2 separate regions of the Homo sapiens genome follow, and region 2 is linked to region 1. Evidence: fine-mapped expression QTL. A gene starts in region 1. The other region holds a variant in brackets. All regions are shown on one strand. Distances are from middle to middle.

Evidence for each region.
Region 2: its variant is fine-mapped to the expression of TAF5L in neutrophils (BLUEPRINT, PIP 0.95).

What each region holds. Positions count from the first base shown.
Region 1 is chr1:229,617,491-229,630,206 of GRCh38, reverse strand. TAF5L (TATA-box binding protein associated factor 5 like) reads left to right here and starts at 4,085. Exons shown (of 5, transcript NM_014409.4): 1 at 4,085-4,322. It overlaps URB2 (URB2 ribosome biogenesis homolog), which reads right to left and starts at 3,960. Exons shown (of 10, transcript NM_014777.4): 1 at 3,851-3,960; 2 at 2,448-2,586. The coding sequence starts at 2,573. RefSeq lists enhancers at 3,387-3,466, 5,127-5,176, 6,021-6,571 and silencers at 3,657-4,356, 4,447-4,636.
Region 2 is chr1:230,207,386-230,223,636 of GRCh38, reverse strand. All of the region lies in intron 3 of GALNT2 (polypeptide N-acetylgalactosaminyltransferase 2), which reads right to left. Among named protein-coding and RNA genes, the nearest start is that of GALNT2, 150 kb to the right of the region's middle. The variant T/C (reference allele first, on the strand shown) is at 9,208.

The DNA.
Region 1 (12,716 bases):
GAAGATCTTCTGGAAAGAATCACCACTCTAGATGCCAGTAAAAATATTCCTGAATCATGGAAAGAGGTCAAAATATCAACATTATCAGGAGTTTGGAAGAAGCTGATTCCAGTCCTCATGGATGACTTTGAAGGGCTCAAGACTGAAGTGGAGGAAGCAACTGCATATATAATGGAAATAGCCAGGGAACTAGAATTAGAAGTGGAGCCTGAAGATGGGACTAATAAAACTTGAATGGATAAGTTGTTTCTTAGAGATAAGCAAAGAAAGTGGTTTCTTGAGATGGAATCTACTCCTGGTGAAGATGCTGTGAACATTGCTGAAATGACAACAAAGGATTGAGAATAGAACTTAAACTTAGTTGATAAAGCAGTGGCAGGTTTTGAGAAGTCCAATTTAGAAAGAAGTTCTACTGTGGGTAAAATGCTGTGTCTTTCATGAAAGGAAAAGCTCCATCAATGCAGCAAACTTCACTGTTGTCTTATTTTAAGAAGTTGCCAGTCACCCTAACCTTCAGCAATCACTACCCAGATCATCAACATTAAGGCAAGACCCTCCAGCATGATGACTCCCTAAAGGCTCAGATAACCAATAACCACTAGCATTTTTGGGCAATTTTTTAAAATTAAGATATGTACTTTTTTTAGGCATAATGCTATTGCATTCTTAACAAACCACAGTATAGTATAAACATAAATTTTATATGCACTAGGAAACCAAAAAATTTCTGTGACTCACAATATTGTGATCTATTTCAGTGACGTGGAACCAAACCTGCAGTATCTCTGAGATATGCATGTACCAAGTTCTAAAAGTTAGAAATACAAAGACTGCTCAGAATGACCACAGAATGTATCAGACACACGAAGCAAAAAAGTAAGTTAAGAGTTGAAAGTCTGGGATTTGTGTCCTGGCTTCCCCCACATTACCTACAGCTTAACCTCTAATACTACTAATATTTATACATCATCTGGGAGACAGACACAGTTGATATGAAATCATACAAGTGCTTTATGAAAAGGAGGACTGTGCCTATCTATACAGGTTCCATTACGTGTCATGTTTCCTCTTCACAAAACATTGAAGAAAGCTCACAATCCCAGAACTGTCAATAACAGTATGAATAGTGACAGATGCCAGAAGGAATAAAATCTCTCAGTATAACAACAGCAGAAACCTTGATCCAATTGGCTGCTAGAGCCTCCCCTTTGTTTCACCCTGGGCAGCACCTGCCAGGTGATGGCCACGCTGCCAAGATGACTCCCAAGTGCAGCCAGGTGTAGAAAGCACTGGATATGACCGCTGCTCTCCACACCACACGTCATCATCGCTTTACATATGTCATCCATCTTGGAAGCATTTTGTGCTGTCTTCCTTGACAACAGCAACTGGATGTGTATTAATCCAATTTCATGAGCTTGTCATCCTGGTGTTTATCATGCCAACTAATTTTTAGCCTAAAAAGCCTGAGAAATTCTAACAAAATGCAATGCCTTTCTTGGTACCTAGCCCATTTCTAAAATGGCTTTATACAAATACTAACATTTCTCTACTTCCCAACCTTCAATTTATCCAATGCGGAAGACTTTTAACAAAGCACCACCAACCAACAGTTTAAGAAACATCACTTTGGATTTATAAGCAAATGCAGCTATCAATGGACTTTCAGAACCTAACTTCTGTAACTTAATTCCCAATGTGTTCATTAATGCATATACTTAGTTTGTAATATAATGTCTCCAAACAAAAGAAATGCTAAATTCGGTGGGTTCATTTATTTTAAAGAGACAAGGTCTTGCTCTATCGCCCAGGCTGGGAGTGAAAGTGGCACAATCATAGCTCATTGCAGCCTCAAACTCCTGGGCTCAAGGGATCCTCCCACCTCAGCCTCCCAAGTAGTAAGGACTACAGGCACATGCCACCATGTCTGACTAATTTATATACATATATAATATGTATATGTATAATATATATACATATATAATATGTATATGTATAATATATATACATATATATTATATATATTATATACATATATACTATACATATACTATATATATTATATATATATTATATATGTATATATACATATATATACATATATAATATATATAATTTTTTTAAGAGATGGGATCTCATTATGTTGTCCAGTCTGGTCTAGAACTCCTGGCCTCAAGCGATCCCCCGCTTTGGCCTCCCAAAATAGAGATGACAGGCATGAGCCACTGTCCCCGACCTAAATGAGGTTTTTTAACAGAAAAAAAAAATGTATTAATGAAGTACCTGACTCATTACTTTTTTCATTGACATTACATTTAACTTCCAACAAAGTTCCCTCCCCAACTTTTTCTCTATTTTTTTATTTTAACCAATTGTCAATATCCAAATTATAAAAGTGATAATTATCTTGACAGACTGTAAAAATATGAGTTTCACATTAAACTTACTTGTTCTTTATTTGGAAGAAAGCACTGGTGAGAAATCCAAGCAAAGTGAGCTAGTTTTAGTTTATCTTCCCAGGAAGTTGTCTTGCTTTTAAGCTTAAGGGAAATGCCAGAATAAACAGCAGCCATGGCTAGGCTTTATCTAAAATTTAAAAACAATGGGAAAAAAAATACTATAACAATGTCAGACTGAGCAGGCACCAGAAAACCAACAGTATTGCAGTACTGTATCTTGTTTACCTAATATGTATTCTTTTAAAAGTTTTTAATGAATCAACAGATTTGTCGGGGTAAATCTACATACAAGATGCTTGACTCCAGAATTTTCTGGGGGAAATTCAGACAAAAGCAAGCAAAAGATGGACTGCACACACAGAAGATGGACTATATGTATTCCAGCTATGATCAAACATCACTTCCACAAAGGTGAGTGTTCAGGAATTCAACAAGGCCAAAATCAGTGATTACATTACTTGTGGAAAGAGTCATTCATACATGGTTTCAAATTGAAAGAGGAAAAGATACATAAGCAATATCCGGAGAAAGTAATATGTCTCCAAGTGAAAAAGAAAACCCCAAAGGAATACAGTTATTTCAGCTGCAACAGTAACCTTCCACTAACACTTTTATTCAGTCGTGTATAAATTTACAACGCACATACACTTCAAAAAAGACTCTACAAGAGATACTTGCACAAGGAAAAGACTAAAAATAGAAAACAAAAAACCATGAAATCTCGGGGGTAGCAAACATACCAAACACCTACAGTTACTATTAAACTGGGTAAACTTGGCTTTGAGTTTCCTAAAAGTTATAGTAAAAAGGAACGTTAAGACGTTTTCATTTTAGAAATTAAGTTATCCTTCACTCTACTGCAGAGAACAAGAACGTCAAGTGCTGTCAGTTTTCCTATTTTGTCAAAATGTCCAAAACGAATTCAACGATGCCTGACTTTCTAAGTTCAATACCATAGAACCGCCATCGCGACAGCTACAAAGTGCATAACAGGTGTTTGCTGAACTGGCTACAAAGACAACCGAGATGCTCTCCCCGGCTCCGCCAGAGTTCGGCTCTCCGGGCCTCCAACCGCCCTTACCGGGCAATGCGAAGTCCAGGGCGGACAGCACAGCCCTGCCAGCACTCCCTGCCCAGCAGAAAGAGACCAAGCAACAAGAACCAGGGGAGAGCAGCTAGGAGCCAGGAGGGAGTTCGCCTTCGCGAATGGAGCGTGCCGAAGCCGCTCCAGCCCAGAGTCTGCTGGCGGCACCGGAACTGGGCAGGGTTGGGGGGCCCCCCATCTGGGCCCGGCCTTAGGTAGGGGGATCTCCTCTGGACCAGCCCCGGGTGGGGGGACTCACCTCGGGACCTGGCTGCCCGCAGGGGCTGACCGCAGGTGGGGGACTCACCTCGGGATCCGGCCCGGTAGGGGGCTCAGCTCGAGACAGCTCCGGGTAGACAGGGGAGGACGGCGGCAGCGGCGGCGGCTGCTGTCCCGGTGCGGCGGAGGCCGCTGTACGGGTCCCGCGTCCCCACCACGTGGGACCGGTACCCGCGCTCCTTCCGCCGGACGCCGGCGGCGCAGCGGGGAGGGGCTGCACGCACGCCAGGCGTCGCCAGCCGAGCGCCGAGGCGCCTCGCCCATTGGCGGAGACGGTTGCGCGTTGGAGGCCCGAGCGGCCCAGCCCGCGGCCCGCTCCGTGTCAGTCAGTCATGGAGCGGCCGCCCAGAGCGGCGGCGGGGGCGGCGGGGCGCGGGGCGCGGGGGCCCAGCTGAGCCGGCCGTCGGAGTGAGACCCTGCGGCAGAGACGACGGAGGCGGAAGCAACCCGATCCCGGAGGCGGCGGCGGCGGGGGGAGCCGGAGCCGCCTGGGATGTTCAGTGAGTGCCGGGAGCACGGGCGGGGAGGGCCGGGAGGGTCGCGAGGCGCGCGCGCGCGCGGGCGGGCGGGGGCCGGGGCGGTGGGGCCTCGGCGGGGCGCGCCTTGGCTCCCGCCGGCGGGCGGTGGGGGTGGGGCGCGGGAGGCGGGGCTGGGGGGCGGCGGGCGGCTCTGCGCGGGCGCGACGGCCGCGCCTCCGCCCTCGGCCTCCCGAGTCCCGGGCTGCGGCCGGCGGCGTGGCCTGCAGTCGGCGGCTACACCTGGACTGGCGTCGCGTTCCTGCGCAGGGGTGGGTCCTGCGGGTTGGATGCCGGGCTCGGGGAGGAGGTGGCGGGCGCCCGCGGGGAAGGTATCCCAGTGCCCGACAGCCAAGCAGGGAGCACGGCTCCACAGCTCCTTTGCATGTAGGGGAAAAGGAAATGTCTTTGCGGCGAAGTCGGGATTCAACTTTGCACATGGTGATCGTGCGTGGGTGGGTGTGGAGTCGATCTCCGCGTGTGACACGGGGGAGCCAGAGTTAGACTAGCTGCTGCAGGAGAGTGCTTACCTGCAAGGGTGTCTCTCGGGGCTCGTTGCCTCATGACAGCAAGGTAAGGTTGGTGCGCCCATGGTGTGGGACGGGTTCACCACCTCCAGCTCGCGAAGCTGCCAGGCTTTTGAAAATGTATTCGATAAGGCGTTGGTCCGAAGTGAGTGGATGGTTAGAAACAGTGGTGTCATTTTAGACTTAGCGGAAGTGGAGTGCAGGAACGCTACATGCAGTTCTCCCATCAGTTGTGAAAGTCGTTGTAATGCGGATCTCGCAGTCTTTGTGGTTCTGGGATCAGAAGGTAAGTGCCAGTCCCATGCAGTGTCTGTCTTAAATTACTGTACCTAAACTGACCTTGCAGATTGGAATCTCGGAATGGTGACTCCTGCTAACAAGCAGTTGGGAGCTGTGCTGAGAGGAACATTAAGTGCGGAGCGTGTCTTATATCAGGCGATTCAAGTGTGCCAACACCTGAGTTGGGGATGTAGGGGAGGACACGGAGGCTGTGCCCCAGTTCCTGGTCACAGCTCTACTTGGAAGGGGGAGTAGGAAAGGGAGTTTTGTGCTTAATAGGTTAAATGCATCTGGCCACATCTTTAAACTTTGGAACAGCATAATGTAGTGGATAGAGCTTGGTGACAGTAGACCTAGGATGGAAACCATGTAGCCATCTGCATAACCTCTCTGAACTGTAGTTTCCTCATCTATAAAATGCGATGATAAGGAATAACTTAAACGTGGATTTTTTTTTATCTTTAAGAGACAGGGTGCCTCTATGTTGCCCAGGCCTGGGCTCAAGCAGTCCTCCCGCCTCAGCCTCCCAAAAAACGACCTTTTTAAAGGTACCCAGAAAAAGAATGATGTGTATGAAAATAGCTAAATGTTAGCTATTATCGTTTCCTTTTTGGCAAAATACCTTCTAGGTTCCCTGTAGTCCTAAGTTTTTGCGTTAAATGGAATATATGCTAATTTTTTAATGAATCGTAAATTCTTCCTGCCTTAAAAATCAGCGCTAAGCTAGAAAATTAAAAGGTGGGCTTGTTTTGAGTATTTTTCTTTGTCATCAACAACAAATTAAATTAGTGTATCTTGGAATAGTTTTGTTGCTCCTGCCTGTAAATGTGAGGCTTATGTGAGCTTCTGTCACTGTGAAACTAGGTAAAGGCCTCACTTAACTACTCAGTAACTGGTTTTTGGTTTTGCAAGCAATATATTAGCACCTGTGAAGGACATCTCTGGGGAAAGAAAGGGGGTTTTGTTTCTGCTAATTTGTTTTGCTGGAAGGGAGCTCTAGGGGTCATCTGTTAAACCAGTATTACTCAGTGGACAGTACTAGAAGTCACGTTTCCAGCCTGTCTTGTATGTGACTGGTGGCTTCTCAGGTAGTAAGTGTTCTGATCATTCTCTCAGCAAGCTTCTAGTAAGCATTCATTGTTGTGCTCCCTCAGGAAGCCCCTGGTCACATGTAGAATCCTTTGAGCAGCAAGATGCTGTAGAAGGTGAGAGCTCAGACCCTTCAGCCAGGTGTCCTGAGTTCCCATCCTGGCACTGTGTAACTTCTTTGCGCCTCAGCTTTCCCATCTGAAGAACGTTACCTACCTCATAGGTTTGTTGTGAGCTTAAAGAAGGCAGTCTATGTAAAGCACTTAATTTTAAATGCTTTAAGTGTCTTAGCGTCGAGTATGCTCAGTGTTAAGTATTCGTAGTGGTAGTGTATGAAACAGACAAGAATAGGGTAAGTTCTGTGACAGATTTGTTCCTGGGTTCGTGTGTGGAAGGGATTGTGATCAAGGAAGCTTTTGGGAGGAAGACATGGCTAAGCTGAGCTGCGAAGTGCGGGTGGGATTTAGCCAAACCAGGTTGTAGTGCCAGTGTGGCAGTGCCTCCAACTACTGGAGGGCCCCTGAGGGGAGAAGGTGGAGTGGGACCCACCAGTAGAGTAAGAAGAACCAAGGATTGGTCCAGTGAGGTAAACAGGCAGATTAGAGCAACCTGGAAATGACACAGTAGACACTCAATTTTTCTATCCTTCACACTAGTGGAGGCAGTAGAAAGTATTTTGTTTTGTTTTGTTTTGTTTTTGGAGACGGAGTTCCACTCTTGTTGCCCAGGCTGGAGTGCAATGGCGTGATCTTGGCTCACTGCAACCTCCGCCTTCCGGGTTCAAGCGATTCTCCTGCCTCAGCCTCCCCAGTACCTGGGACTACAGGCATGCACCACCATGCCTGGCTAATTTTTGTATTAGTGGAGATGGGATTTCACCATGTTGACCAGGCTGGTCTTGAACTCCTGACCTCGGGTGATCCACCCACCTCAGCCTCCCAAAGTGCTGAGATTACAGGCCCGAGCCACCGTGCCCGGCGGCAGTAAATGTTTTTAAGCTTAGCAGAGATAACATCAGATTAGCTCCTTGGAAAGATTGTGCCTATAGTAGTATAGTATTATGTTTAAAGTAGGGCCAGGTGTGGTGGCTCATGCCGATAATCCCAGCACTTTCGGAGGATCACTTGAGCACAGGAGTTTGAGATCAACCTGGGCAGCGTAGTGAGACTCCGTCTCTACAAAAAAAAATTTTTTTTTTAACTAACCAGGTGTGATGGTGGGCATGCCTGTAGCCCCAGCTGCTGAGGAGGCTGACTCAGGAAGATCTTTGAGCTCAGTCAAGGCTGCAGTGAGCTGTGATTGTGCCACTGCACTCCAGCCTCGGTGACAGAGCAAGACCTTATTTCAAAATTAAAAAGAAAGACTTTTATTTTTATTTTATTTTACTTTTATTTTTTATTAAGATAAAGTCTTGGCAGTTCCCTATCTGCCCGTGATTTCAAAAGGAAAATGGTAGTAGAGTTGGGCATTTTATTCCAAATCTCAAAGCTTAGACAGCACTTACAGAAAGCATGAAGAAACCAGGCAGCCTTCCCTCTTAAAAATTATCTTCAAGTATGTATTGTATATGCTTGATCACAAGCAAGGTTTTCCCCCAAAAGTCTCATGTTTGGGGCTCCCCTGTTACAGGGCACTCTTTCTCAGTCTATTTTGAACAACAAGGTGCTGTTTGGGAAGGACATAATGGGCTGGAACAACTGGAGCAACCTCAGCTGGTGCTAGTTTGGGATATTTATTCAATCTTACCAAATAAGTGAAACAAAAAAATAGGAAAGATTCAGTCATTAAGTCATTCTTCCTGATGGGGGTGGGGGGTATCACAAAGTGCAAGTGTTAAATGCAAAACATAATGTATGTATAATATATATACACACACATATCTGTATATCTATATATATCTATCTGTATAGATAGATAGATAGATAGATAGATAGATAGATAGATAGATAGATAGATGATGATGAATGAAAAGAAGTTCTGCTCACCCGAACAGGCATTGATGGCTTGGGTTGAGATTTCCAGCAGGAGTATATGGATTTAAGACGTGCTTTATTGTAACTGATTTAGTAGATGGGAAAGGTAAAGTGCTCTGGAAATGGAATTTGATGATTCATAGTGGCTTAATTCATCACAGACACTGGTGTTTAAGATATTCATGAACAGTTGGAGTGAATTTCTTTAGTGAATTAATATATTGCCTTATATATTTTAGATATGTGTAAATTAATAGAGATTATAGTTAGACATTTGATTTTCATCTGTAACCCTCAGAGTTTCTCTTTTTTTAAATTAAAGTTGACTAAAATGTTTTCTTTTTAATTTTCTTATTGGTATGGTAAGGTAGTCATAGGTTTGGGCTTACCTTTTAGTTGGACATTTTACAGAAAGAAATTAGCTGCTGTTTCTCCACTGAAGCAAATTGTCTTTTTCCTTCCTATTTTTTAATTTACAGAAGATTTGAAGAGTGTTGTATATTGTCAGTGTTTAGAAAACACTATAAAATACTTCCATTTATAATTGTTTAGTAGTCAAAGAAGATATCCTCCCAGTAAGGTGTATCAAGGTGGATGGGTATGTTAATAACTTCACAATGTTTGGCAATAATAAAAGGTAGCTGTGTTTTTAAAACAAAATACTAACTTTTGGAGACTTTGTCATTAGTAAGCAGAAGTGTTATGCAAAACTTTGTGAATTAACTTTTTTAAGCCAAGATGCTGATGCATTAGTTTCACCAGGTAATGTCATTCTGTAGAACTCTGTTGTCCAATACAGTAATCATTGGCCACTTATGACTACTTAAATTAAAATTAGTTAAAACAATTCAGTTCCTTAGTTGCACTAGTCATATTTTCATTGCCCAATTGCCCTGTGTGGCCAGTGACTACTGTTGTGAACAGTGCAGACTTACAACACCTCCGTCGTTTGCCAAAAGTCCTCTTGGACAGTACTGCTCTGGAATGAAAAATTGAAGATCATTCCATCCACTTTGAGACACACACACACACACACACACACACATAAATGTTTTAATGAAGCGTCTTCAAATCCTCATGTACTGCATTTGAATTCAGTTTCAGGAACAGTGATAAGCATGGGAAAACGTCTTATCCCTTATTTTGAGAACAGGACATCCTATTTCTGTCTGCAGTGGTGTTTGCAAATAGAGCATTTGTGAAAGTTTTCTTTATGTAGTCAAGCATAGTAAGTAATGTAAAGAGCCATTCTGTAGATTGTGCCACACTCTTCCATGTTAATAAGATTTTGTATAGAAAAGCAGTTTTTCTGTGCTGTAAAACAGTATTAAAGTAGAAATTCAAAAAGATCACGAGCTTAAAATAAACTCTCAAGAATTCCAAGAAGCTAGATAGCACTCACGTTATTTTTATGATGAGTTTCAAAGATAAGGCCTGTCCTCAGGGAACTCTCCATCTGTTTAGGGGAACTGAGGAAGAGTGATGGCAAGAGGGGACAACCTGCATGAGGGTTGGGGTGATTTAGGCTTGGTTGTAACATCATTAGATTTGTCATGTACTTTGGCTGCTTTTCAAAGGGCCATATGAGGAGGGCCTAAAGGTGGAAGAATATTGGAATAGTCCAGTTGAGAAGTGATTTGTAGAGTCGGGCATAGTGGCATACACCTGTAATCCTAGCTACCTGGGAGGCTGAGCTGGGAGGATCATGAGCCCAGAGGATGGAGACCAGCCTGGGCAATATAGCCAGACCACTTCTCTAAAGAGAGCGAGAAGCAATTTGTGCTGTCAAATAGCAAACAGTCAAGATGGGGTAGCAGAAATGGTTGAGTTGCACTAGCCGCAATTTTTTTTTTTTAAGTTGAGAGAGAATTCCCATTTAGAATAGGAGTTGGTGGCCTCTTTGAAGTAAGGGAGAGAGAGAACAGAATTTTATCATGACTGGCTTTTTGGTTGTTTTGTTTTCTTTTGTTTTGTTTTTGCTTTAATGGTGGATAGTGGCACCATTAAGCCGGCTAAGAAAACCGGGAGAAGGAAGAGGTATTGCAGGTGGAAATGTCTGTTAATTGACTGAGTTGAGGAAGGTGGTCTGACTGTAAGTCTTGCATGGTGGTGTGGTGAAGCCGGGAATGTGAAGAAGCAGTGGCAGACAGTAATGGGAGGGCAGAGCCACAAGAGAGGCTTGCAGTGGGAGGGACCAAGAGAGTTTCAAGTAGGAGGTGAGTTCAGCAGCATCACATCCAGCTGAGAGATCGTGAAGGGTGGTGCTGGAAAGTGACTGGTTAGATCAAAAAGTTAAGGAATCCCAAGTCTCAGTAGCCCACTGAGGTCAGAAGCAGGGTCAGCTGGCTGGGTGAGGAGACTGGTGAAGGTTTAGAATAGCGTAGGTGGAAGGCTGTAGGGTAAGTAGTTGATGAAACAAGACTTCTGGAACATCATGGAGGTCCCAGCTGATGTTGGAGAAAATCTACTTCTCATGACATCTGTTTGCTGGATTTCGTGATTTCCACCTACTTTCTACCACTGCTGCCATCCCCACCAAAACGCCACATTCTTCACTGCGTCCTGAGCCCAGCTACGGCCTTATCCATGTGCCATTTTATTTCTTAGGACACCATGGGAAAAAACACAGCTTCTAGTTCAAGTGTATTTATGTCAGTCTGAGCAAAGATTGAATATGAAAGGCTATCATAATTTTTAAATTATATGAGGTATGACTGAAACTGAAAGTAGTATGGCTCATTTATTTTTCAGTTGTGATTTATATTTTCACAAAGCTTATTGAATACACTTTATCATGATGATTAATGCAAAGCTAGGGCTTTAGGTCCTACTTAGACTGATCTTTTGATGTTACAACCATTTAGTTGCTGTGAGTGAAGAGAACTAATAACTTGAGTTACCTAGTAGACACTTTACAAAAAAATGCAAAAAAATAATTTTTTTCTTCTGTTATAAACATAAATTTGCCATTGGAAAAAAGATACAATTACTCAAAAGCCAACAGTCAGAAGTCTCAGTTGAAGAGCTGATTTGAGGATTGTGTAGTGAGTTTGCCTGAATTTATCTTGAACTCACCCCTACTCAAAACTGCCACCTTATTGGGGCAGGGGGAGGGATGGGGGAGCCAGGTAGTACTCTTTTGGCATTTCGTGGAACTGTGTAGTACTTTAACCTGTGATATGGTGGATGAGGGTGCCTCCCAGCCCTCCTCTACCGACCGTGTACATTAGAGCCTAACGGGGGTGGGGGTGGAGGGATAGGATGCAGCGTGTAACCACTGAAGGGATTGACCAGACTAGAGTTCCACACTGACAGCATCTTAAGAGGATGCCTGGGTTCCATGTATCTCCACCTCCCCATGTTTCTGTAGTTGAATGTTAAGTGTGGCTGTGGTTTTCCCTGCAGAGTTGTTACATTGAAATGATCATGTGGGATTTTATATAGCAACTTGGTTGAAGTATCTGGCAACTGTTGATACATGAGAATAGATATACATTGTGTCAAAATCCTCCAGAAATTTTTGATTTCCAGAAATACCAATCTGGCAACTGTTGATACATGAGAATAGATATACATTGTGTCAAAATCCTCCAGAAATTTTTGATTTCCAGAAATATCAATAATGTGATATGAAGAGCAGAGTATTTGACATCTGTTTTTACCTCTGAAAGTTAAGTATTTTATATAAATTGAAAATGATGAGAAATTCTGAAATGTTAACAAAGAGTATAATTATATTTAAATCCAATTTCAGTTTGAAAGATTTTATAATTATAGGAAAAGCTAGGCAGGTAACGAAACTGCACTGTTCGTCTCATGTATGAGTCTCTCCAGAGACTTAGGTCTAGTTTAAGGAGAGTTTTTTTTCTTCACTTGTCCCTTTTTGGATATTAGTACTCTGGAAATCAGTCTGGGTGGAGGGGACCGATTTATCTCAGGTTCATTAATTATCCATGTCACTTGAAATATATGTACATTGGAATAAAACCCAGCTGAGTTGATTGGGTCGTGTCTCTAGTATTTGAGTTTAGCGTGGTTATGCAAGAGAGTCATTGCCAGAATTCCTGCCCTTAAGATCCATGGCCATACAGTTGATTCACCACCCACCCTCAGGGAAGCGCCCTTATCATAAATGGTAGTTTGGACTCAGAGAAATTGCTATTTGGGGCAGCTAATTTAAGCATATTTGTTAGAATCAGTATTACAGACTAGTTTCTAGCAATCTTAAATATGGTCAGTGTTGACTATCATTCATTCTTACTCCGTTCTGTTTACTCTTTCCTAACTTCACATCTTTTCCCTTCCTCCTCAGACACATAGGTATATTGTCGCACCTTGAGGACACTGTGTCATTGCAGAGCCTGTTCTCCAGATCAGTCATTCACATGTCTTTCACATGCAGAGTTTTTTCCTGTCAGAGGTGATCTAAGAGATCGAGGCCCATCTGCCTGGAATGCTCACGGATGTGCATCAATATTTGCATGCATTCCCAAGTCAGCAAAAGATCGGCA
Region 2 (16,251 bases), 590 kb before region 1:
TTACCCGGTGTGATGGCGGGTGCCTGTAGTCCCAGCTACTCGGGAGGCTGAGGCAGGAGAGAATCGCTTGAACCTGGGAGGCGGAGGCTGCAGTAAGCCGAGATCACACCACTGTACTCCAGCCTGGGTGACAGAGTAAGACTCCATCTCAAAAAAAGTAAATGAATAAAATTAAAAAAAAAATGGCTAAGAGTCTATTAAACTTTAGACCATCAGGTTGGCTTAAAAATCAAAATATATGTGTTACAAAAGATAAACCTAAGACAAAATGGCATCCAAAAAAGAAAAAAAATCAGTAAGATACAAAAATGTATCAAGAGTAAGTGAAATAAAGTAGGAGATTAACATTTATGCAAAGCAAAATGTATGGCAAAAAAGGAAAACTTGTTCAAGGACAGCCTGGGCAACACAGTGAGAGCCCATCTCTATTAAAAAAAAAAAAAAAGAAAAGAAAAACAAATAAAGTGGGGTAATTTTATGTCAATAAGGGTATAATCCATGAATATATATCTTCTAAGCCCCTCATGCTTAGAAATAAGCAGAAACTCCTAGCACTGTAATGTTGAGTTTCAAATGCTTTTATCAATAACAAAGGTTTTGAATGTAATCGATCAGGTTGGTTGAACATGTATATTTGAATTTGGAAATGAGTATAGATGTTACTAGCTTTTAAAAAATACCCATCAAATATTCATAGAAATGAGAAGTAAAGATTGCAGCCTCTGGGGGCAGGCTGTTGTTTAGACCTCACCACAGCCTGGTTAATGGGGCAAGTTCTGTTTCTCTAACTATCAAATCTTAGTAACAATAACAACAGTACCTATGCCTCATAGGGTTGCTGTGAGAATTAAATGAGTAATGTGTGTAAATTGCTTAGCATAGCACCTGGAACGAAAATCTCAATTAAAGGTAGCTACATCTCATGCCCAAAGTAAAACCCTCCATATATGCAAAATAGTAAAATTATAAAGTTGTAATGTCTGACTCCACAGCAATAAAGTCAGGAGAAAAAAATCTCCAATGACCTAAGTTTAAAAAGATAAAAAGAAAAAAAAATCAGTTTCTTACGATTTTGAAACTCTTTCCTAAATAAGCAACGTACCAAAAAAGAAACCAAAAACAGAATTCCAGAGTGGTGAGAAATAATAATAGCGGTCATTTACAAGTAGGTTTAAAAATAACCAAAATTATCACACTATATTTCGTATTATGAGACTCAGCCAAAGCTGCACTCAGAAACCAATTAAGTAGACATAAAGTAAACATTCAACATTCAACTCTCATGGGGCAGGGGGAGTGCAGAGGAAAGCAGAGGCAACAGGCAGACATGAATGCATTAAAGAGAAAAGCAGGGAGGCCGAGGCGGGCGGATCACGAGGTCAGGAGATCGAGACCATTCTGGCTAACATGGTGAAACCCCGTCTCTACTAAAAATACAAAAAATTAGCCGGGCGTGGTGGTGGACGCCTGTAGTCCCAGCTACTCAGGAGGCTGAGACAGGAGAATGGCGTGAACCCGGCAGGCAGAGCTTGCAGTGAGCTGAGATCGCACCACTGCACTCCAGCCTGGGTGACAGAGCAAGACTCTGTCTCAAAAAAAAAAAAAGAGAAAAGCAGTGAAATGTATATAAAATCCCAGCACTTGATGTCAAGGATGAAAAGAAGACAGAAGTAAGGAGGAGAAACCAGAGACACATCACTGGCATTTTTAAAGAAGAAAAAAATGAAAAGTTTATAATTAATAAAGATTTAAGTGCATATACATATAACACTATGCCAATAAATTTGAAAATCCAAGGGAAATTTATTCTTCTGGGAAGATATAAATCAAATTAATTCAAGTAAAGCATAGAAAAACTGAACACATGTCAATATTCATGGAAGAATTTTAAAAGGTTATCAAAGGATTACTGTAATGAAAATAAAAATAGCTCTAAGTTTAGATGACTTTGAAAGGTGAGCTCCAAGAAACAAATAACTCCTTTACAAATCAGTTTTTCTGAAGCATCTAAAGAAATTTAGGAATTTGTTCTAAATTCATTTTACAAAGTTAACATAATCTTGAAGCCAAAGCTAGATGAAGGAAGGAAGACGGGAGAGAGGAGGAAAAGAAGGCAGGCAGGCTGGCTGGCCACAGACACTTTCAGCTATGAATCTTCATTCAAAACCTAAAATAAAGCAGTAGCCAAACTCAGCAATATATTGAGTAAATTCTGGTACATTTTCAGAACCAAATAACACACTGTCATCTCAAATAGCATCTCCTTTTAAATGAGTAAGCAAGGAGGTTATTCGAAAATATTCATCCCAACGTTAGCATTAAAAAGGAAAAGAATCTAGCAGTCCATTACCAGAGAGCTAGCTAAATAAACATAAAATGGGATATATACAGCTTTTATAAGGGAAAGTTATATATTTAACAGTCCTAGAAAATATTTCCTATGTATTACTGAATGAAAAAAAAGTAGGCAGGCAAACAGCAAATACAGTGTCATTTTACTGTCATTGTATTTATAGAAAATGACATACATCGAACATCAGAGGGTATGAGACAAATTAGGAAGGATGTTCACCAGAGACAATGTGAAGCTTTCAGACTTTTCTTCCTGTGTGCAACAAACACGTATCTACTTTTAAAAAGCTTTTTCTTTAAAGAAAAAACCAGTTTTGAGTAATTCGGTGTATTTAAAGAAAGGAGAACTTGGGGAGTTCATGATACAAGCTTGCTAACAGCCCACTGCGTAGACCATTAGTATCTAGGTGAAACACAGACCAATTCAGAGATTTTAGCTAATATTTGGCCAAGATAAGGTTTGCCAACAATAGAAGGCAGATCATTAGCATCACCGTCACATCATACCATGATTTCCTTAGGGCGGGTCTGATTAAGCCCAAGAATGGACCAACCCTAACAAAAGTACCTTCGTTTGATGGCACCACCATGCGCTGGCCTCCAGGGGATGCCTCTTTGCAGACAGGATTCTACAGTCAACTGGGTTAACTGAGTGATTCCATAAAAGCAGCTACCGAGAGAGATCTAGTTCAGCCCACCCAGCACGTGGTGACAGTGAGGGAGTGGCAAAGCCTACCAGGAGCTACGCTGGGTGCTAACCAATCTCAAGGGCAACCTGTGCACCAGAGGCCCTGCAGGATATCAAGCTGAAGACCATCCCGGGAGTTTCAACTCCCTTTATGCCCTGCTCCCCTCATCTACAGCATAGCAACCCAAAAGTAGGCTCTGGTGCCTCCGGAGTGGGCTGTTTATCATGTGGCAGCAGAATCAATGGTATTCTTCTTTATTTACCTAGCGAGGGTCCATAATTCCTAATCTTTGATTCCAACATTAAAAAAAAAAACAAAAACACCTTGGAAAAAAATCTGTATCATATTTGGTGGCAAAGCCTGCCATGATCTGAATTATGTGGCAGTAAAACCTGACCTGATGACTGTTCTCCTGATTTATCCCACTTGGTATGCATATTCATGTTCTGCTGCAAAAACATTAGTGTGTTTGAGTACAAGGTACTGTCTCAAGATTAAAAACATTATTTCACAAATTGTGTATATGTCATTAATAGCTCTCTAGATATTTTTTTAACAATCTGAATTCCCTAAGAATTTAAGTGAGGAATTAGAGAACTGTCTAATTACAGATAGTCTCTGTCCCAAAGCAACTTACGAAATACCTGGAGAAATCATGCACAGCTACAAAACAAGAAAGCCCAGGCACAGAGGCTCTGGTTGGGGGTGGCAAGGTCTCAAGCAAGGGCAGCAATCCCATGGCAGGGGGCCAGTCAGAAGCAGTTCTTTGGAAGAATCTAGGCAAATTGTGTTTTAAGGGACACACCCATTTAGAAAGGTTTAGAAGGGCAGTGGAGAATACCATGAATGAAGACAGCCACAAGCACTTTGCAAAGAATGCCCCCACATCTGGAATGCATCCACGTCAGAAGTCTCAAGAAAGGTAAGTGGGTGGCGGAGGCAGGACCGGCTACTGCAGGCCATCTATGCAGGGCCCAGGAGGGGGATCCAGGTGTCCTCACCATAGGTTAGTTCTTGTGTGGGAGGGGCATGCAGAATACAAGCCTGGGAGAGGTACTGAGAGATCTGAGTAGGCAGGTCCAGTGACTCAGAAGGGAGGACAAGGGACTGGACCAAGAGTGGCAATGAGAGGAAGGGGTTAATTTGAGAGGGATGCCAGAACAGAAAGCCACCAAGGCCACTTGGGCAGCTCATGGTCCCACGCGCCAGTACACGTTGGCCAAGCAGAATTAGGCAACCAGGGCATTGCTTTATTCTAGCCCAGAGCAACATACGGGGAATTTTCCAACTTCAACAGGTGACACTTATATGTGAATATCAAGAACAAGTACCTTGGCCTTTGCACTTAAAGAATTACCAAGAATAAAAAAGATTTGGTTTAAAGGGCCATGGCAAAGATGCCAGAGGAAATTCAATCATCATCATAAAGAAGAGGCAACAGATAACAAACCCAGTGTCCCTTAAGCCAGCGGTCCCCAACCTTTTTGGCACCAAGGAACAGTTTCATGGAAGACAATTTTTCTACAGATGGTGGAGAGGGGAGATGGTTTGGGATGAAACTGTTCCACCTCAGATCATCAGGCATTAGATTCTAATAAGGAGCACACAACCCAGATCCCTTGCATGTGCAGTTCACAATAGGGTTCGTGCTCCTATGAGAATCTAATGCCCATGCTGATCTGACAGGAGGCGGAGCTCAGGCGGTAATGTTTGCTCATCCACTGCTCACGTCCTGCTGCGTGGCCTGGTTCCTAACAGGCCATGTGTCACCACTGGTCCACGGCTTAGGGGTTGGGGACTCCTGCTTTAAGCCTATTTTGGTAACCAGAAATACCTCCACATTTAAAAATACACATTCAGGGATAGATAACAAAGTGATTTTAAAACCATCCATAAACATTGACAATCTCAACTGTGTAACTTCTCCCCAGGCTTGCCTCCTGAATTCCAGATTTTTGTATATCTTCATCCACCTACTGGACAGTTCCACTTGGATGAAAACTTCCCTCCTAATCTTTCCAGCAATGCTTCCTGAATAGCAGCTAGTATTCGTTTAGTACTGACTATGTGCCAGCCACTGTGCTAAGTCACTTACAGGTGTTAACCCATTTAGTCCTCACACGGCAGCCCATAAGATGAGTATTATCATCACCCTTAACTTATATCACGAAGGAGCTAACTGACACGCCAAGATCGTGCAGCTGCTAAAGGGATAACTGGGATTCCAACATGGGAGACCTGGTGCCAGCATCCACACCTTAACCAGGAGGTTGTACTGCTCCCTGCTCAGCAAAGGACAAGTCCATTCTTCAAGTTGCTTGGTTAAGAAACTCAGTGGCATCCTTCAGCCCTCTCTTCTTCACATTCCACATCCGATTCAGCATATCTTGTCATCTCTACCTTCCAAAGGCATCCAGAATCCAACCACCTCTCACCACCTCCATTGTTAGTCCCCTGTTCTTAGCCACTGTCATCTTGGCTGGATCACGGCAACAGGTTTCTCTGCTTCTGGCCTTGTATTTCCCACCCCACCCCCAGTAAACCTGGTCTTATCACAGCAACCTTTTAAAAAACTGACCCTTTAGAGGCCTAATTCAGGTCATGCTGTTCCTCTGCTCCCAAACCTACAATGGCTTCCATCTCACTCAATGGCTGCTACAGTTTGAATGAGTCTCTTCCAAAATTCAGGTGTTGCAACTTAACAGCCAATGTAGTGGTGACAGAACCTTTAAGAGGTGATTAGATAATGAGGGCTTTTCCTTTGTGAAAGGAATGAAGACCCTTTAAAAGGGCTTAATGAAGGGAGTTTGTCCCTTTTTTGCCTTTCTGCCTTCTGCCATGTGAGGATACAGCATTTGTCCCCTCTGGAAGATCCACTGTTCTTGGCGCCATCTTGAAAGCAGAAACCAGATTCTCACCAGACAATGTGAGCCCTGCCAGCTTAAAGATCTTGGACTTCCCAACCTCCATACTATAAGAAGTAAACTTCTGTTCTTTGTAAGTTACCCAGTCTCAGGTATTTTGTTATAGCAGCACAAAACGGACTATGACAGAGACAAAGCCAATGCCCTTACCATGCGCCTCCAGGCTCCTAGGGCTTGGTGCCTTGACTCCTCTCAGACCTCACCTCTTTCTACTCTTCCTCATGGCCACCTGCCTAGCGACTCTGGCTTCCTGCTGTCCTTTAGATAGGCCTGGCACACTACCTCTTTGGGGCCTTTGCCCTTGCCACCTCCCCTGATGAGAACTCTCTTCCCAGTTATTCAAACGCACACTCCCTCGTCCCTTCCCTCAGGTCTTTGCCTAAACACCTTCCTGTCAGTGAGATCTTCCCTGATCACCTGTTTAGTACTAAAACCCTTGACTCTTTCACACTCCTAACCTCCACCGCTTTTTTTTTCTCTTCTGTATTTAACATGCTTTTTAAAAACCACATAATTAATGATTTATTTTATTGTTTTCTCCCCCATCCTCTTAATGTGAGCTCTATGACGGCAGAGTTTTTTTTTAATGTTTTGTTCACAGCTGTTTCCCCAGTGACCAGAAAAACACCTGTCATGTAGTTAGCACTCAAATCTTTGCTAAATAAATGCATAAATCCAAGAATAAAAATAAATCTTCAGTGAATATAAAACTTTAAATCCAAGTACAATATTCCTATTGGGATATTTCCTTTTTTAAATAACTTGAATTTCCAAAGAGGTGTGGATTTTCTCACATTATTGTCAGATGAAGAAAATCATGGCTTATTCAATATAGTTAAGATAGTCGTTACTATAAAAGTCTGAACTTTAAATTTTACAGATGGCAGTGGAGATTATGGGCCCTCATAGGTTCTACCATTAACATTTAACAACTCCAGAGTACAGGCCAGGCATGGTGGCTCATGCCTGTAAACCCAGCACTTTGGGAGGTAAAGGCAAGAGGATCACTTGAGGTCAGGGGTTTGAGGCCAGTGTGGGCAACATAGCAACACCCCATCTCTACTAAACAATTTTTTAAATCAGCTGAGTACAGTGGCGCACACCTGTAGTCTTAGCTACTCAGGGGGATGGCTTGAGCCCAGGAGTTTGTTACGGTGAGCTATGATCACATCTCTGTACTCCAGCTTGGGCAACGGGGTGAGACAACTCCAAAGTATATGTGAATTGTCAGTTACACCAGTGAACAGATCGGTGTTTTGACTTAATAATGAATGTACCATAAACTGACAATGCTGCTTCTTTTAAGTTCATTAGAAACATCACAAGTAATCTCCGAAACCATATTCAAGTGAAATACGTAGCCTAAATGACAAAAAAAGTTAAAATAAATTTTACAGTATTTTGACTGTTTCCTAAAATATACAAAACCCTTCCACTGAAAAAGAAAGTTGTTCTTTCAGTTTCATGGTTCCACGACGGGGGGCAAAGTGATGGGTTTTAAATGGATAGTTGAAGTAGGACAGTTTGTTAGGACTCGAAGATTGATCTCATTTATCAAGCAAAACTCTGTTGACTCCATTTTTCCTGGTCTAATTTCTTTCTGAAATAGGTAGGATCACTGCTTCACAGCTATTTCCACAACTGTTTTTGGTTCTATGATAAAACAATCCAATACCATCTCAGTGTGACAGAGGCATTCACATACTGGAAGCTGAAAGTCTGCCAGCCATGTCACACACATTTTGAGAGCAAAGTGTAACAAAATAACAGTTCATTCTTTACTTAAAGCTGATATATATACAAGCCACTAGTCACTATATTAATGTCCTGAATTTGTGTAATTAATGTATGTAGTTTATGTGTACATCTGAGCCTAATAAAAATGCTGTAAGACAGGCCAGGCAAGCATGATTATTGTTTTACAGATAAGAAACCCAGGGTTTACAGAGATTATTTTAACCTCAGTCTGGGAGCTAACAGCTGGTTGAGCTATTAATAAAAGCAACACATCCCAACTTCAAGCCTGTATTTCCATTTACTCTCCTTCGAGATAGACATTATTGCTCAGGGCAAAATTTATAAACTGCCAAATTCAGAGTGGATTTGAATTCCAAATAAAACACTCAGGTGTTTTTCCTGCTTCCAGTGACAGTAAAGTTCCTTGCTGTAGACCAACCTACTCACTAAAAGCAACCAGAAATTCGGGATGAAATACACTGAAGAATCTATTTGAAGGCACTAGAGAGCTAGCAAAGCAGCCAGGTGTGAGGTCAGGTTTCCAGAAAGGAGAAGCACCTAGAGAGGAAGGCCAACATTCTCTGATCCTCTTCCCCTCAAACGGCATAGAGCCAAACGGCCGACTGAGCCGAGCAGAAGCGATGGTCTTGTAGGTGCAGAGCCAAGTGAAAGCTTCTGGAGGTGCTGTGGAGCTGTGGAGGCCAGAAATGGACTTCAGGGCTTGCTGAGGAAACTGGGCTCTGATACATATCCCAGACTTCCAGGTCGAATCCCACAGGGCTACTTCCTAGTGGCAAAAGAGAACTGGAAACTCACCAGCTCTCTCACAAAAGACCGAAACCCAGCTTTATACCAGCTCAATTCCAGACTTGATTAAGGTGACCTGCCCTATTTTAACTGCCTGCCAGAGAACAAAACTAAATCCTCTTTGGAGGAAAAAGTCAGTGAGAGCCCTGAAATATCTCGGTATTTATTCATACACAACAAAACACAATCACTGAAATGAAGAATTCAGCAGTGGATTTAAAAGCAGACTAGACAGAGCAGAGGAAAGGATCAATGAACAGGAAGCAGGCCAACAGAAATATATCCAGACTGAGACACAGGGAATCAAAAAGAATAAAAAGTACAGAAAAGAGCTTATGAGGGACAGAGGAAACGCAGAATTATCTAACAAAGATGAAATTAGGGTCTCAGAGGAAGAGGAGACAGAACTGCAGCATGGCAAAACTGACAAGGCATGAAGCTCAAGAGTCAGGAAATTCCACAAATCCCAAACAGGTTCAGCACAAGGAAAACAACTGCTAGGCATATTATGGCAAAATTGCTGAAAAAAAGAAATATCTGAAAAGGCAGCTGGAAGGAAAAGTCAAATGTCTTCAAAAAGAACAAGACTAACGGTAGACATTTCGCCAGAAACAACAAAAAACAGAAGACAACTGAAAGACAACGTAAAGGTGCTGACAGTCACTGTCAACCCAGAATTTCACAGTCAGTGAAAAGAC[T/C]CTTCAAAAACAAAAGTAAGCCGGGCGTGGTGGCTCACACCTGTAATCCCAGCACTTTGGGAGGCTGGGGTGGGCAGATGGCTTGAGGTCAGGAGTTCAAGACCGGCCTGGCCAACATGGTGAAGCCTAGTCTCTACTAAAAATACAAAATTGGCCAGGTATGGTGGTGGGTGCCTGTAATCCCAGTTACTTGGGAAGCTGAGGCAGGAGAATCACTTGAACTGGGGAGGCGGAGGTTGCAGTGAGCTTAGATCACACCACTGCACTCCAGCCTGGGCAACATGAGCGAGACTCCGTCTCAAAAAAAAAAAAAAGTAAAGTTAAGATGTTTTCAGACAAACAAAAGGATACAATTCATTGCCAACATACTGGGACTAATAGAAATACTAATGAAATACAGAAGGAATATGGTCTTAGGTAGAAAAATAGAAATATAAGAAATGAGGAGCAATGGGAATATAAATATGTGAATAAATCAAAAGGATATTTACTGCATAAAACAATAAAAGATATCCTATAGAGTTTATAAAGAAAGAATTAAGCTAAATGACAACAAGAGCACAAAGGGCTGAAGGTAAGTGGAAGGTAAATTATTAGAAGGTCTGTGCATTGTCTAAGAAGTAATAAAATTATTCATTTACATTAGGCTCTACATGTGGACTTACTAGTCAAGAATTTAGCAAACCAACAGAGAAGAAAAAACGTAGGAGGATGCAAGGGAAAAAGAAACACAAAGCAGGTGGAACTAAGAGAACACAACCAGTGAGATGTTGGTGTTAAACCCCAATAAACTAGTACTTACATTAAATGTAAAAGAACTAAATACACCATATAAAAGATAAAGATTGTCACAGCAGATGAAAGTCCAAAATCCAACTATAGGCTACTTACAGAAGATACACTTTAAATATAAGGACATAAAAAGTTTGAAAGTGAAAGCATGGGAAAATGTATACCATGCAAAAACATGAAACCAAAGAAAGATGGTGCAGCTCTACTGATATTGTAAAACAAGAAGCATTACCACTGACAAGAAGTGCATTTCATAATGATAAAAGGGCCAGTCTACTAAGAAAATAACAGAAACTCACAAACAGGTCTAAAATAGAAAGAACAGAGCTCTGTTGTAAATGGTCTAGAGGTGGTTAGGTTATCCTTACTAGGCTACGTAATTGCCTGTTTCCTTGTCTGCCTCTCCGGGAAGACTACAGTTTCTTGACAACAAAGACGATCCTCATGGTCATCACTGCATTCCCAGGATGATGGCAGAAAGAAAAGACTAAAGAGTAAAGAAAGCAAATCACACAACTCATTTAGCATCATTGTGCTTTTGCCCAAACCATAACCCAGAGTTACAGATGGGGAAACTGAGCCACACATGTGGGCAGCCACTCAGGGGTTAAGCTTTGAGAATACGTTTGCTAATGATCTTTGAAAAGGAGACTTGAAACGGGCCCTTCAGAGATGCCAACATCGACACAAACGAAATCTCTACAGTCAAATCAATACAGTCTACTTATACCAGTCTCAATGCATTCTTTAATTCAGACAGAGAGAAGGCCTGAAATAGACCAAAAAAAAAGAGGAAACATATCAAGGGAAGAAAAAGAACGGTCTGTGGTTGAAACCAGAAGTTGGTTTTATAAAGACACAAAAAATAAAAACAAAACATAAACAAGCACGCTGATGAATAATGACATGGCTTTGGTGTGAACTGTGCATATCAGATGCAAGTTACAACCTGGGATGAGTTGGTGGGGGACCCGTTAAGCAAGGAGCCATTATTGCTGGCCACTTCCCACTCCCCACATCTCGTATATCTCGCTGAGCCTGCCAGCACCCTTCCAACAGCAGGCAGAGATGTCACACTGACAGGCAGAGATGTCACACTGACTGAACACACAAGCAGTCTCACTTCCTGAACGGCATCAGCAATGTTCCAAGGGAACAGAAATAGAGTGCACTCTTCCAATACATTTTCTTCGAGAATCTGAAGCTGGAAAAAGAAAAACAACCCCATTTCTTCTCCATTTCTCAGCATCCCATCAACGTGTGGCCAGCTTCCCTTAGGAGGTTGTTTGGCTGCAAGTTACCAACACCCATCTCTTCCATTTTTTAGGTGCATTCAGGCCTCATGCCAAGACTCATGCCTAAAAGCCGGGAGTATGAAAGACCCTCTGAAGAGCGGACAGTAAGGGAGCCACAACTGTTAGACAGAACCCTGAGCCCAGGATACAGAGTGCTCCAATTCCTCCACCAGTGAGCCCTGTTAGAACTCAGGCAAGTGGCTCACCTTTCTCGTCTGCCTCATAGACAAGTGATAAAACTTCATGGCTTAGTAACTGTAAAATCCCTGGGGACTAAGGCTCTCTAGATACAAGGTGGTGCCTTATGAGGCCCCGGGATATCCTAGCTGCCTGCCTCTCCCCAAACATGTTCCAACCGACAATGTGAAAAATGAGAAAAACAACCTCTGCTCTGCAAACTGAGCTCACATCCTGCCGAACCTGACTCCTGTGTGCAACTCTTCTACTTTCTGGAAGTGGGGTCTGAGTTCCGAGCCTTCTGGGAACTGGTATACGACATCATCAGAAGTATAGCATCCCTACCCACTTTACAGGAGTGTGATGCAGAGTAAATAAAATTTTTTATTTTTAGAGATAGAGTCTCACTCTGTTGCCCAGGCTAGAGTGCAATAGCATGATCATAGCTCACTGCAACCACAAACTTCTGGGCTCGAGTGACCCTCCCCTTTCAGCCTCCCAAGCGGCTGGGAGTACAGGTGCACACCACCACACTAGAGTAATTGTTTTTTAAGATGGGGTCTCACTATATTGCCCAGGTTGGTCTCAAGCTATCCTCCTGCTTCAGCCTCTCAAAGAGCTGAAATTACAGGTGTGAGCCACTGTGCCCAGCCTTAAATAAAATTAATGCACACAAAAGGCTGAGCATGGGCCTTGATACCAAAAAATGTTCAATGAACTGCTTTGTTACTGTGATTATTGAACAAGCTTTTAAACATTCACTGTTACACCACACCCAAACTCCACCTGCCCCACGGCCACAAATGCCAACAAAGCCAGAACAGCTAAGCCTAGAGAAGCGCCTGTCCCCACCTGTGACACCCCGTGTGGCCTCCCATCTCCTCCACCAGGACCCTGTGGTGCGGCATACAGAGTTGGAGTTGGGCAGCAAATTGATGCGGGAGGAGTGGGTGCTCGGGCCAGCTCTACCATGGAGCAGCGGTTCCGTCACAAGAATCTCAGGAGGCCAGCGGCGCATGTTTATGAGACGCCGCGAGCTGCCGAGAAGTACAACATAAGGACAAAGCTCCAGCCCTGCCTGGGTCTCCAATCACACTCCCACTGGGGAGCTGTGTGGATTTCCCTAGATCTTCTGCCCCCCTAAAAAGAAAACTCTGAGTCCCCTAATAGTTGCCTTAGCCAAAGCCTCCCTCCAAGCTGGCTGACTTAATGCTGAAAACCTTCACTTGGCTTCAGCAATGTTTGTTCTTCCAGAATAAGAATGGGAAGTTTGGATTTTATCTTTCCCCACAATCCTTAATCCTGATTAGCCACTCTTAAAACAACTGATATCAATACTGACATTCCAGTGAGAGTAAACAGCACAACCCAGGCCTTCAATGTCTGCCCTCTTTAAATGCCCCTAAAAAATAAATAAAAGAATACACCCTTAAGAGCTTTGACCTATGTTTTGGCTGTGTTAAAGGCAGACATTTCAAAAGTGGTCAAAATAGAGTTCTTTAGTAATTCTTCTAAACAAAGGGTGAGCCACTATAATCTGTAACTAGAGTAAAAACAACATATTCTTGACTTAAAGATAAACCGATTAGATGTACAACTTGGACACACTCCTCTCAAAGAAGGTTCCTTTGTAGGGAAATGGTTCAGGCAGTGGTATTTCAGCGTGAGACACAAAAATGTTTCAAAACCCCACATTTTAAATGTAGTGGTGGCAAGGCAGAGAAAAGCTTTCTAATAACTAAACGTTTGAAACCCAAAGGAAACCTGTTTCTTTAACAAGCAGTTCTTGTTTTTAAAGGATTTAATGAAACAAGTCAAAAGGAACGGTGTCTAGTTGACAGGGGAAAGAAGAAAACAAAGAAAATGGTTTCCCCCCTAAAGGTTGATTTCATTTTACATCTGTAAATAATTTCAATGTAAACTGTCCCAAGTTTTCCCTAGTAGAGAGAAAGAGATTTCATAAACTTCCTGGGTTCCTCTACTTTATTTTCTTATCAGATGCATTTCCAGGCAAAAACAATCAAAACCCTCCTGGAAAGGAGTTTGGATCCCGGAAACGCTCCAGCCTGACGACACTCACTTCCTAAGCGCAGCACACTCTAAAGAAGGCATCAAGGGGATGTTACCCCAGGAACCTCTGAACCAGACAACACTGGGGAGAGGCTTCAGAAGAGCTTAAGAGAAAATGAAGGCAAGTGTTACCCAAGTCATTTCAGGATCTGGCTGGCCGGTCCTCCCACTGGCCTGCCGGTCATGCTGTATCGTTTCCACTCTGTATTAGTCAGCCTGGGCTGACAATACCACAGACGGGACCTTAAACAATAGACTTTTTTTTTTTTTTTGAGACAAGGTCTTGCTCTGCCACCCAGGCTGAAGTGCAGTGCAGGCTCAGCCTCCTAGGCTCAAGCCATCCTCCCACTTCAGCCTCCCTTGTAGCTGGGACCACAAGTGTGAGCCACTATGCCCAGCTAATTTTTGTATTTTCTTGTAGAGATGGGGTTTCGCTATGTTGCCCAGGCTGGTCTCAAACTCCTGGACTCAAGCGATTCACCCGCCTTGGCCTCCCAAAGTGCTGGGATTACAGGCATGAGCCACTGCACCTGGCCCAACAATAGATTTGTATTTCTCACAGCTCTGGAGGCTGGAAGCTCAGCTCAAGGTACCAGCAGATCTGGTTCCTGGTGAGGCCTCTTCCTGGCTTGCAGGTGGCCCTGTTCTGCTGTGTGCTCACATGGTAGGGAAAAAAATCTCTCTTTCCATCTTCCTCCTCCTATAAGGACACCTGTCCTGTAGGACAGGTGGATCAGGGCGCCACCCTTTAGGACCTCCTCTAACCTTAATCACCTCCACAAAGGACCTGTCTCCAAATACAGTCACTCTGGGGTTTGGGACTTCAACGTAAGAAACTTGAGGGGGCACAATTCAGTCCACAACACACTCATACTTCCATGCGGCTGCTAGTCAGAGGGACAGAGACTTCCTGTGGGGCCTGTATGGGCTACAAGGCTCAGGAGGTGATGGCTTTCAACCTGCTTTTGAGGGCTGGCTGATGGAGAAGGCAGGTATGACTCAGAGCAATAACAGAAAAAACAAAAAAACAACTTCAACATGCTTTTTTTTTTTTAACTAATGGGGGGAAATAAGTAAATGAGGGCTTGACAGGAAGCCCTGTGGCCATTTGGGTAGGACAGTCTCTTCAATGTGCCAGACCAACCTGGGCTATACGAAATATGTGGCTTCATTGGGCCCTGGTGGTAAATGCCAGGAGCACCCCACGGGTATTCTAACAACCCCCGATCCTCCACCCCCACATTTCCATCTTCGCTCTGGGTGGGTGGCACAGCTCAAGGCTGAGAACCACTGAATTAGACACTCCCCTGAGGCTCCTTTTAGCTTCACAGTCGCATAGCTTCATAAAATTATATCTCCTGATCACGGGAACACAGCCTAAAATAGTACGCAATCTACAGTGTTAGACTGTCCTCAAGTGTCAGCCGTTGGCTCCAGATTCACAGCTAAAGATCTCAATGTTGGAATCGTCCAGGGCTCAGGCCTTGGGCCTCTTCTGTCTGCATCCATTCCCTTGGGCTTAACACCCAGCCTCACGGTTTTAAATACCATCCATACGCTGAACATTTCCAAATTTACATTCCCGCTAAGACCTTCCTCCTGAACACCAGACACATATCCCACCACCTACAAAACAGGTCCACCTACACTGAGCAGCATTAACATGTCCACATTTCCCTACACCTGCTCCACTCACAGCCTCCCTATATCTCAGCTGAGGAGACTGCAGGTCTTCCCTTGTGCCAGCCACAATCCTTGGCACCCTCTTCCAAGCCATACCCCCCTCCAGTCCATTAGCACATCCTGTTGGCCCCACCTTCAGAATATAGCCCACCAGACCACTTCTCACCACCACCAATGCTACTTTCCATTACCTTCTGCCTGGACAGTAAGAACAGCTTCCCAACGCAGAGAGAGAGAGAAAAAACAAACACTTACTACAAAAAAGAAACTTCAGAATTCCCATTGGTTTAATTTGCTTTTAAGTCTTGATAATTTATTTGAAATTTCCAAGCAAGAAGATTATTTTTTTAAATTGAGAAACCATGCAGAGATCACTGTTAGAGGTGAGGGATATCCCAATTACCCTGACTTGATCATTACACATTGTAGACAGGTATCAAAATCTCACATGTACCGCCAAGATAGATAACAACTATGATATATCAATTTAAAAATAAAAAGAAAAGAAATGGTGCTTTCAAAACTAGGATGGGGCTGAATGCCGTGGCTCACACTTACTATCTCAGCATTTTGGGAGGCCAAGGCGGGAGAATTGCTTGAGGCCAGGAGTTTGAGACCAGCCTGGGCAACACAGTAAGACCCCATCTCTACAAAAACTTAGCCTAGCGTCATGATGCGCACCCACGGTCCCAGCTACTCAGGAGGCTGGGGCAGGAGAATCACTTGAGCCCAAGAGGGAAAGGCTACAGTGAGCCAAAATTGTACCACTGCAGCCTGGGTGACAGAGTGAGACCTTGCAGAAAGAAAAGAAAAAAAAAATAAGATGGGCTATCATCTTTCTAATATCTAAGAGGACCTAATATATCTTATACATAGTATTTAGTATTTCACTCACAGCTGGCTTTTGTGTGCTTCCTGATTCCATGTAAATATTTCTTCTTGGTACAATATATACATCTAGAAAGGTAAATAAAGCATAGCCCAGAGTTTTTTGTTTGTCTGTTTGTTTGGGAGGCTCTGAAGCCTT